2 linked regions of the Homo sapiens genome follow. The protein of the gene in region 2 purifies or fractionates together with the protein of the main gene of each other region. This does not show direct contact. Each region holds a gene or a part of one and is shown on either strand. Other genes may lie near its edges.

The links.
Region 1: the proteins of LARS2 (region 2) and SAFB purify together in Homo sapiens (co-immunoprecipitation; one large-scale study listed by IntAct). This does not show direct contact.

Annotation. Positions count from the first base shown.
Region 1 is NC_000019.10:5,629,583-5,634,108, forward strand, and holds part of SAFB (scaffold attachment factor B1), read left to right. Parts: intron 1-4,526. UniProt on the Homo sapiens protein: Binds to scaffold/matrix attachment region (S/MAR) DNA and forms a molecular assembly point to allow the formation of a 'transcriptosomal' complex (consisting of SR proteins and RNA polymerase II) coupling transcription and RNA processing.
Region 2 is NC_000003.12:45,492,232-45,497,783, forward strand, and holds part of LARS2 (leucine--tRNA ligase, mitochondrial), read left to right. Parts: intron 1-3,012; exon of another isoform or gene 3,013-3,269; intron 3,270-4,043; coding exon 4,044-4,142; intron 4,143-5,552.

The DNA of each region.
Region 1 (4,526 bases), on a different chromosome or scaffold from region 2:
ACTAGACGTTTGGAGATTTTTATTTCCAATTATCACTCGGTACTTCCAACATTCAGTGTTTGCACGAACCAGAGATAAATACCTTTGTGTGGTCAAAGTAATATAATTTTTGATAACTTAGTGAAAGGAGAATTCTAGACTCCAAGGATATGGCCCTTTATTTTCACATAGCTAGTTTACAAATAGCTGTCCCGGCCAAGTTCAGTGGCTCACGCCTGTAATCCTAGCACTTTGGGAGGCTGAGGTGGGCGGATCAAAAGATCAGCCTGGCCAACATGGCAAAACCCCACGTCTACTAAAAATACAGAAATTTGCCAGGTGTGGTGGTGGGCGCCTGTAATCCAAGCTACTCAGGTGGCTAAGGCAAGAAGATAGCTTGAACCTGGGAGACTGAGGTTGCATTGAGCCAAGATAGTGCCACTGCACTCCAGCCTTGGCGACAGAGTGAGGCTGTCTCAAAAACAAAAACAAAAACAAAAAGCTGTCCCAGGTTGTACCCTACCAACAATGGGTGACGGTGCCTATTTCACTAAACTCAACATCAAACTTACCTTGTTTGCCTGTTACCTTGTTGCCTGTTATATAGAAGAAAAGTATTTCATTGTATTTATCTGCATTTTTCTGCAGGTGAGATTTTCGTTTGCATTTCTTCACAGATTATACTCTTCTGATAATTGGACATTTGTGTCGTCTGAATGGCCTTTTCATGCCCTTTGCCGATTTCTGTGCTGGGTTGTTTGTCTTATTGAGTTATAAAGACTCATATAAAATGTTTCTATTGTTTTAATCTGTCATTCAATTTAATCTGATTCGACTTGTGGTATTTTGATCACTAGGCTTCTAGATTTTATGTTACGCTTTAAAAGGACTTCTTTGCTTTTAAATTATTAAAAATATGACTGTAAGGCCAGGTGCGGTGGCACACGTCCGTAATCCCACGATGCAGGTGGATCACCTGAGGTCAGGAGTTCAACACCAGCCTGGCCAACATGGTGAAACCCTGTCTCTACTAAAAATACAAAAATTATCTGGGTGTGGTGGCAAGCGCCTGTAATCCTAGCTACTTGAGAGGCTGAGGCAGGAAAATCGCTTGAACCCGGGAAGCAGAGGTTGCAGTGAGCCGAGATCACGCCACTGCACTCCAGCCTGGGCGACGAGTGAAGCTTCGTCTCAAAAAAAAAAAAAACTATATGTATAACTCTGTTATATATAGAAAGAATAATATTTATGGTTTTATTTTTACATTTTACATTTGGAGGTTTAATTAATTTAGAATGTATTTTGCATGTGGTGTGAGGTAGGTAGGGATGAAAACATGAAACATTTAGGCTGGGCGTGGTGGCTCATGCCTGTAATCCCAGCACTTTGGGAGGCTGAGGCGGGCAGATCACCTGAGGTCAGGAGTTCGAGACCAGCCTGGCCAACATGGTGAAACCCCGTCTACTAAAAATACAAAAATTAGCTGGGCATGGTGGCGGATGCCTGTAATCCCAGCTACTCGGGAGACTGAGGCAGGAGAATCACTTGAGCCTGGGAGGCGGAGGTTGCAGTGAGCTGAGATCATGCTGCTGCACTCCAGCCTGGGCAACAGTGCAAGACTGTGTCTCAAAAAAAAAGAAAAGAAACATTTGTCATCAGAAAGATCACTTCTGCCCCTCCCAGTGCGTCTCCCCTCCCAGCCCCTGCAAAAATAAAAGTCGCTGTTGTGATTACTTCACCAGATATTAGTTTTACCCATTCTAGAACTTCATGTAAAATGGAGCCATGCAATACTAGCTCTTTTGTGTCTCATTTGTTGTTTTGTTTTGCTTCTTGTAATCAGTTTTATTCTAGAAATTTACAGTACATTTTGATATCTGATAGGGCAGGTCGGTAAGTTTTCTTGAATTATTTTCAACTACTTTATCAGTGGGTTTTATCAAGATTTTAACTGAAAATAGAGGGACTGCTGTAATGTGTGAATTCAAAATGCTTTAAAATTCCAGAAAGCATATCTCATGTAATCTCAGTTCTCCTCCTATTGCTTGGACTTGGAGAAAATGACATCCCTTTTAAACAGCACTTGGCCAAAACAGAATTGTCACTTTAACATTTTTTTTAAAAACTGCTTATACAGCAAAAGTCACATTCCACATGACGTGACTCTCACCATCTTAGCAGACTCTCAAAATAATTATCAGGGGCTGTGCGAGATGGCTCTCGTCTGTAAGCCCAACAGTTTGGGACACCGACGCGGAAGGATGACTTGAGCCCAGGAGTTGGAGAGCAGCCTGGGTGACATAGTGAGACCCCATCTCTCCAAAAAATTAGAAAAATTAGTCAGATGTGATGGCGTGCATCTGTAGTCCCAGCTACTCAGGAGACTGAGGTGGGAGGATCACGTGAGTCCAGGAATTTGAGGTTGCAGTGAACCATGATTGGGCTGTGATTGCTCTCCAACCTGGTAACAGGGCAAGACTCTGTCTCGAAAAAATAAAATAATTACCAGGAAACTAAATTTATTTGTAGTGTCATCACAAAGTACAAATTAATAGGATGTTTTATGGTGTTTGAGAATGTTTTGTAACTGGAGATGCAAAGTTGGCCTGTTTGCTTGGTTAAGTATTACCCAATCCTTTGCTGCTGGCTTGTTTTGTTCAGTTTTTGTTCATTTTGGCAATTTCATACTTAAGTTGCAAGAATAATGCAAGGAATTCCCATATACCCTTTACCCAGAGTCCCCAAATATTGCCATCTGACTACATTTGCCTTGTCCTTTTCTCTCCTTGTATGTATGTTTTTACTAGACCGCATGGTAAGTTGCAAGGCGCATATGCCCCTTTGCCCTACGTACTGCAGTAAAGTAAGGATATTACCTAACTGTAGATGTCCAGATCAGGAAATTAACATTGATACAATACTGCCACCTCGTCTTAGTCCTCATTTAGATTCAGTAGTTTGTTCCAATAATATTCTCTATAACTCAGACAAAAAATGTCCAGAGTCATGCATTGCATCAGGTTGTCATGTTTCCTTAGTTTTCTTTAATCTTGAACACTTACACTTATTTTGTAGTTTATTTTTCTATTTGAATTGTTTTGGGTTCTCCCCGCCCCATAATAAGGATCAAGTTATACGCTTGTCAGAAATACACCAGACATGTTGTATTCCTGTTTTTTGTTTTGTTTTGGTTTGAAACCGGGTCTTGCCCTGTTACCCAGGCCAGAGTGCAATGGTGCAATTGTAGGTCACTGCAACCCTGAATTGCTGTGCTCAAGCGATCCTCCCACCTTGGCCTCCCAAAGAGTTGGGATTACAGACATGAGCCACCACGCCCAGCCTATATTGTCATCAGAGTATACTATCCAGAGGCACATGCTGTCAGTTTGAGCCATTATTGGCCATGTTAGCTGACTTCAAATGCTATTGGCCAGGTTTCTCCACTGGAAAGTTACTGTCTTCCTTTTCACAGTTACATTTGTGGGGAAGATACTCTGAGACTTTGTAAATATCCTGCTCATCGTCCATTAGTTTTAGCAACCACCAGTTCCTGTCTATTCATTTATTCTGGTAGTTGCCAAATGGTGATTTTTTAATTTTGTTATTGTTTGTTTATTACTTGGTTTACTGACATAAGGAATAGCTTGCCCTTTGCCCTCATTTATCTGTGTGAACTTAGATTATTTTATTCCATAGGTTGAAAGCCTTTATGCTTATTTACTACAATGTGCAAAACGTTCCATTGGGAACCCTGTCAGACAGGCTCCCCTGTCATTTCCACATGTTCATGCCATTCTTGGGATACTTTTTTACCTTCTGGAATGGCAGGGTACGTGAGTCTCATCTTATGCTTTTCCTGCCCTTTCCCCGGAATCAGCCATTTCTTCCAGGTGCCCTGGGCCCTTTTGAGGAGAGCTATTAGAAACCAGGGTCTGCAGCCAGGCGCGGTGGCTCACGCCTGTAATCCCAGCACTTTGGGAGGCCGAGGCAGGCGGATCATGAGGTCGGGAGATCGAGACCATCCTGGCTAACACGGTGAAACCCCATCTCTACTAAAAATACAAAAAATTAGGCAGGCGTGGTGGCGGGCGCCTGTAGTCCCAGCTACTCGGGAGGCTGAGGCAGGAGAATGGCGTGAACCCGGGAGGTGGAGCTTGCAGTGAGCCGAGATTGCGCCACTGCACTCCAGCCTGGGCGACAGAGCGAGACTCCGTCTCAAAAAAAAAAAAAGAAAAAAGAAACCAGGGTCTTGGAACTTAGATGTACTTCTGTAACTAGGATGTCAACTCCTGGGCCAGTACTTGGTTTGTGAGAGCTACTGGGCTGATTGTACCTCAGGAAATTAAGTACTGTTAAAGCAATCCGAAGCAAGCCAAAGACAGCTTAAGAAAGGTGACAAAGCCCTCATGAACAGTTTGGCAAACTTGCTAGCTGGTTAAAATTGTTAATCACTTCTCCAGGATTTTTTAGGTGACAGTTATATCATTAGTGAATCAAAGAATTAAGCATGTTGCCAGATTGACATTGAAATGTACATAACATTCTTA
Region 2 (5,552 bases):
AGCAGAGTAGTTGCTAAGAGAGCAAGTGTGCTCAGGGCTGCATTCTTTAATATGCTGAAGCACCATGGTTCCTTTCTCCTCATTTTGGAAGTGGGATTATGTTTTTCTGTCTATTCACTGGCATGTCTCAAGCATGATTTTTAATGATGCTGTCCATATCAGCTAATTAAACAAATAGCAGATACCAAGTTCCAGTATTTTCCTTCTTCTGCGGAGAAGCCATTTTTCTCTGCCTTATAGATCATGATGAGGATATTATAAAATAATTTTGTATTCTGCCAGTATAGAGCTGAGTTACTAGGTTGACAATTAGGTAACCACGTAGTGTAATTGGAAGTCTTGAGCTGGGTGTCAAATCAGTGATGGATTCAAGTCCTGGCTCTGCCTCCTAACTAACTGTCTAGCCTTGGGAAAGTCATTTACCTTCTCTGAGCGTGAAATCCCTCATCAGGAACAAAAATAACCCCATTGAAGGGCTTTTCAGAAGACTAGAATTAACACATGTGATCCTGCACAGTGATACCTTCTAGGCCTTCAATAAATAGAAACTTTATGGCCATCCAGCCAGGGACTTGCCAGCCATCCTCCCAGGTCCTCACTGAGGCAGTTTTGAAATTCAAGGTGGAACTTGGAGGGAGGTATATAGGAAGGCCCAGACCATTTTAGGGTAGAAATGTTGGCTCCAGGAGGAAAATAGCACACCCTCTTTGTTGATAAGCGCTGACAAAGGGCTTCCCTACCAGAGATGTTGGTGGCCTGCATACAGCACAGCAGTTGTGGCCTTATTGATGAGGATAAGGTTTCCTGCTTGGCTGCAGAATTACTGGAGGGCAGAACCTAGGCCTTGGTGTTGGGCAAGGCTCCCTGGATGATCTTTTTTTTTTTTGAGATGGAGTCTCGCTCTGTCGCCCAGGCTGGAGTGCGGTGGTGCAATCTCGGCTCACTGCCAGCTCCACCTCCCGCGTTCACACCATTATCCTGCCTCAGCCTCCCGAGTAGCTGGGACTACAGGTGCCCGCCACCAAGCCCGGCTAATTTTTTGTATTTTTAGTAGAGATGGGGTTTCACCGTGTTAGCCAGGATGATCTCCATCTCCTGACCTCGTGTTCTGCCCGCCTAGGCCTCCCAAAGTGCTGGGATTACAGGCGTGTGCCACCACGCCCAGCCCCTGGATGATCTTAATGAGCATCCAAGGCTGAGAGCTACTGAGCCAGTGTGGCCGAGCAAGGCAGCCCAGTGGTACAGACTACAGGCACCAGAGCCCACCAGATGTGGATTCCTTACCCTTGAACTACAAGACCTTGGACAAGGTTCTTAACCTCTCTGAATCCTAGTTACTCATCTGAAAAATGGGGATATGAGCAGTATCGGTCTCATAATCCCCAGGGCTACTGGGGATTAAATGAGATAATACTTCTGCGGTACTTGGCTCAGTTCCTACTACCCAGTATTATTATTATTACTATTGGAGCTAATCCTGATAACATTATCACCATTATCTATCACTTCTATCCCTCCTGCTTGCCACGTAGCTTCTTCCTTATCATCTAGTTTTTAGTATCAGCAATAAAACATGTTAGTTGCCTTCAAGTCCAACAAGACCATTAAAAAGGAAATCAGCATGGCAAATGTTAGCCAGCTGTTATTCCTTTTATAAATTGAGCCCGCATTTTCTCCCTCACTTGGACCTCACTTGCACAAGGTAAGTGAGGAAGATGAAGTAATCTTTATTTTCTAATTATTTCCCAAAGTAGTGTCTGTGTTCTGGTTGATTGCTCTCCAAATAAAAAGACCTGGCTTCAATTTAGAGGCGCACTGTTGAGATCAGCTTCTTAGAGCAGCCCTGGGTGGTAGGAAGCTGGGTTCCCCGAGGGCTCTCTCTGAAAAGCTTCTACTCTTAGAGACCACCACTGTTCTCATTGGGAGGTCCCCTGATTAAAATGCAGGGGGTCCCAAAGCCCTGCCAGATCTAGGGCGCCCATGCTCTCTGCTCAGCCACTGCATTTAACCAGCTGACGAGGGAGCTGGAGGACTATGTGGGGGACTGGCCATTTCCTTGGGTAATATTTGTAAAGCTGGTATGAACTACTTCACAAATGGAAGACAGAAATACAACCCTTCTTTTATTCTTAAATTAAAAATACACTCAAGCCCATACATGCTAAATTAGCAGAAGATTTATCAGTTCCTCTTGGGATTCCTCATCCCTTCTCCCCAAATTCTCCAATAACACCCAAAGACTTACACTGCCCAAAGCGCAATATTTGGAGGGGCGATGAGCTTCACATCCATGCCTTAGAAGGGAGAGCCTGCTATGGCTTCCCACTGCCACAGAAGGCCCTGTTGATAGCTGGTCCTACCCATCAGACAGAAGGTGCTGGTTCTCTGCTGATCCAGGCCTTGAGGAGTCTCCAAGGCAGCTAATCCCCGTCCTGTGCTAGGCTTGACTAAGGGCACCTTCTTTTGAGTTCCTAGGTAGTGTGGCTTTTGGCACCTGGTTCCTTCAGTCCCACAGGCCCACAACTCTAGGAATGTTCTTAAGAATGAGTGTAGCAGCTGGGCATGATGGCTCATGCCTGTGATCCCAGCACTTTGGGAGGCTGAGGCAGGCGGATCACTTGAGGTCAAGAGTTCGAGACCAGCCTGGCCAACATGGTGAAACCCTATCTCTACTAAAAATACAAAAATTAGCCGGGCATCATGGCATGCACCTGTAATCCCAGTTACTCAGGAGGCTGAGGCAGGAGAATTGCTTGAGCCTAGGAGGCAGAGGTTGCAGTGAGCTGAGATCGAGCCACTGCACTCCAGCCCAGGTGACAGAGCCAGACTCCATCTCAAAATAAAAATAATGAGTGTAACACTTGGGCCCTTGTGAGACCTTGGTCCTGCTGGACATGTCTGTCCCTAGGACAGGGATTCCTTTTTCTATGCAACCCTTCACATATCAAGGATCTCACTTTATTCTCTGTCTTGAACACCAGGGCTTTCTTCACTCTTCCATAAGGAACCTACCTTTAGGCAGTGGTCTCATGGTAGATATGTAATTAGCTTTGGAGGGGGGTCCTGATTTCTAGCATTTGCCAATTTCCGTGATGTACATACTCCCATCAGGGCCAGTTTCAAGCTACCAACTTGCCATCTTTTGTCACAGTGTTGTGAAGAGATGCCCCAATTGATTCTTACAGGCTGGCATGAGCTGGAGCAACCATTGCCTTTGGGGCTTCCAAGTTGGTTTGTCTTCCTCGAGTCATCCTGGTAGATTTCTGCACCTGTCACCCCAGAACAGAAGTAGAAGAAAAATCCAAGTTGATTTTCCACACATCTCCCTATATTTGGTTCTCATTTGTCTTCATGCATTGATTGGCTTCATAAGCATCATAAAGTAGGCATTGGCGAAGGCAATCTTGACATGCCTGGAACAGAAGTTAAGGCACAAAAGAGATACCTAATCCTGTCTTGTCCTTTTGGATGGTGAGGCTTTCTACCAGGTTAAATTCAGAGAAGTGGAAAATAAGGCTTTTAATTGTTGAAAATTGAAACTTTTATTTGTAAATAAATTTCTTTAAAACATCGCATACTATACAATATAAAAAGAGAGCTTTCCCTGAATTGTCTTTTCATATGTGGCTTTATTCTTTTTTTTTTTTGAGACAGAGTCTTGCTATGTCACCAGGGTGGAGTGCAATGGCACGATCTTGGCTCACTGCAACCTCCACCTCCCGGGTTCAAGCCATTCTCCTACCTCAGCCTCCCAAGTAGCTGGGACTACAGGCACACGCCACGACGCCCAGCTAATTGTTCGTATTTTTAGTAGAGATGGGGTTTCACCATGTTGGCCAGTATGGTCTCGATCTTTTGACCTCGTGATCCACCCACCTCAGCCTCCCAAAGTGCTGGGATTACAAGCGTGAGCCACCACACCCAGCCTGTGGCTTTATTCTTATGACATTTTAAATTCATACTTATAGCTCTCTCAAAAGCTGATGGAAAACTGCATTAAAATTTAAAAAGAAACCAATTGATGAATTTCATTTCTTTCTTAGGTGCAAGGGAGCAGCCAAGAGAGAGACAGACACGATGGATACCTTTGTTGATTCTGCTTGGTACTACTTCAGATACACTGACCCTCATAATCCACACAGGTAAAACGTCCCTGCTGATGTCTTTGAGCATTTGTCAGTGTGGCTCCTCCTAGAAGCAAAGACCAAGATGGAATTAGACATGCAAGAGATTTCTTGGGGGGAAATGCCTGTGCAGATTAAAGGGGAGAAGAGGAGGAGTGGGCAGAGAGTGCTCTTAGACCACGATGGAGCTGTGACAGGTGTGAAAGGAGAAGGGAAAGGAAGGAGGATCAGGTGGAGGAGCCTCAGCCCACAGCACAACTCTGAGAAAGCCTCGACCTGGCCAGTGGGAAGGCCCAAGCAAAGCTTGTCCATTAGAGTCTTACAGTCAGGCTAAAATGGCTCTGCTCCAGCCCCTCCCTCTACTCTCCTGGGAGCAGCCTGGGAGAGCAACATGGGCTGGCAGGAACACACCAGAGTGGGTCCACAGATGCAGCAGCTGGAAGCTGTCAGTCAACTGTGCACCTCGGAACAGGCTCTCTTAAAGGGAGAGTGCTACATCATTAAGTTAGATTATTCACAGCCAAGTAAATCCCAAGTACAACACAAATACAAAACGGAAAAAGAAGGAAATGCTACTGTGATACCCTCCTTGCAGTGAACTGCATTTGTATGATTGTAAAGATGTAATGTTATTTATTTAACTGAAAAGAATAATGTAACTCTACAGAGAAGGTAGCAGGTAGGGAGGGTGAGACCGCTAAGAAGCCTCACCTCTTACTACATAGTAGATCATTTCCTAAATTGATAAATCAATAAAGAGTATAAACATGTTTTTTTTTTTCAATAATTGCTGGGAGAAACAACCAAAAGAATTAAAAGTGGCTAAGAGACAGGCCTGAGGCAAGGAAAGAATTGGGGCTGGAGACCACTGTTTTTCATTGTAAATCTTTCAGTACCATTTTGATTTTTAAGCTGTATTCATGTGTTTATTTGAACCCCGCCCCCCCCAAAAAAAGAAACAAATTAAGGAAAAGAGAGCAGTAGGTAGCCTTATAAAGAGAGAGAATGAGAACCGAAAGAAACTCTTCCAGAGCCCAGGAAAAAACACAGCATTGTGCTTAAAAGGGCCTTGCCTAATTGCTCTTGTCCATGGCAGAAACATTCTGGAACCCTGTTGCCTACATATAAAATATGCCTCCCTATTCTTCGTGGTTCTAAAATAATATCTTTCTAGTGAGACAGATACTCCTGCCCTCACCCTGCCAGAATTTCAACCTGCAGTGTTGTGATTCTGTAATTTGAGTTCATATCAGATATAAGGGGGATCCTTGTCAGGCATGGTGGCTCACGCCTGTAATTCCAGCGCTTTGGGAGGCCGAGGCAGGCTGATCACCTGAGGTCAGGAGTTGGAGACCAGCCTGACTAACATGGCAAAACCCCAACTCTACCAAAAATACAAAAATTAGCTGGACACGGTGGCACGCACCT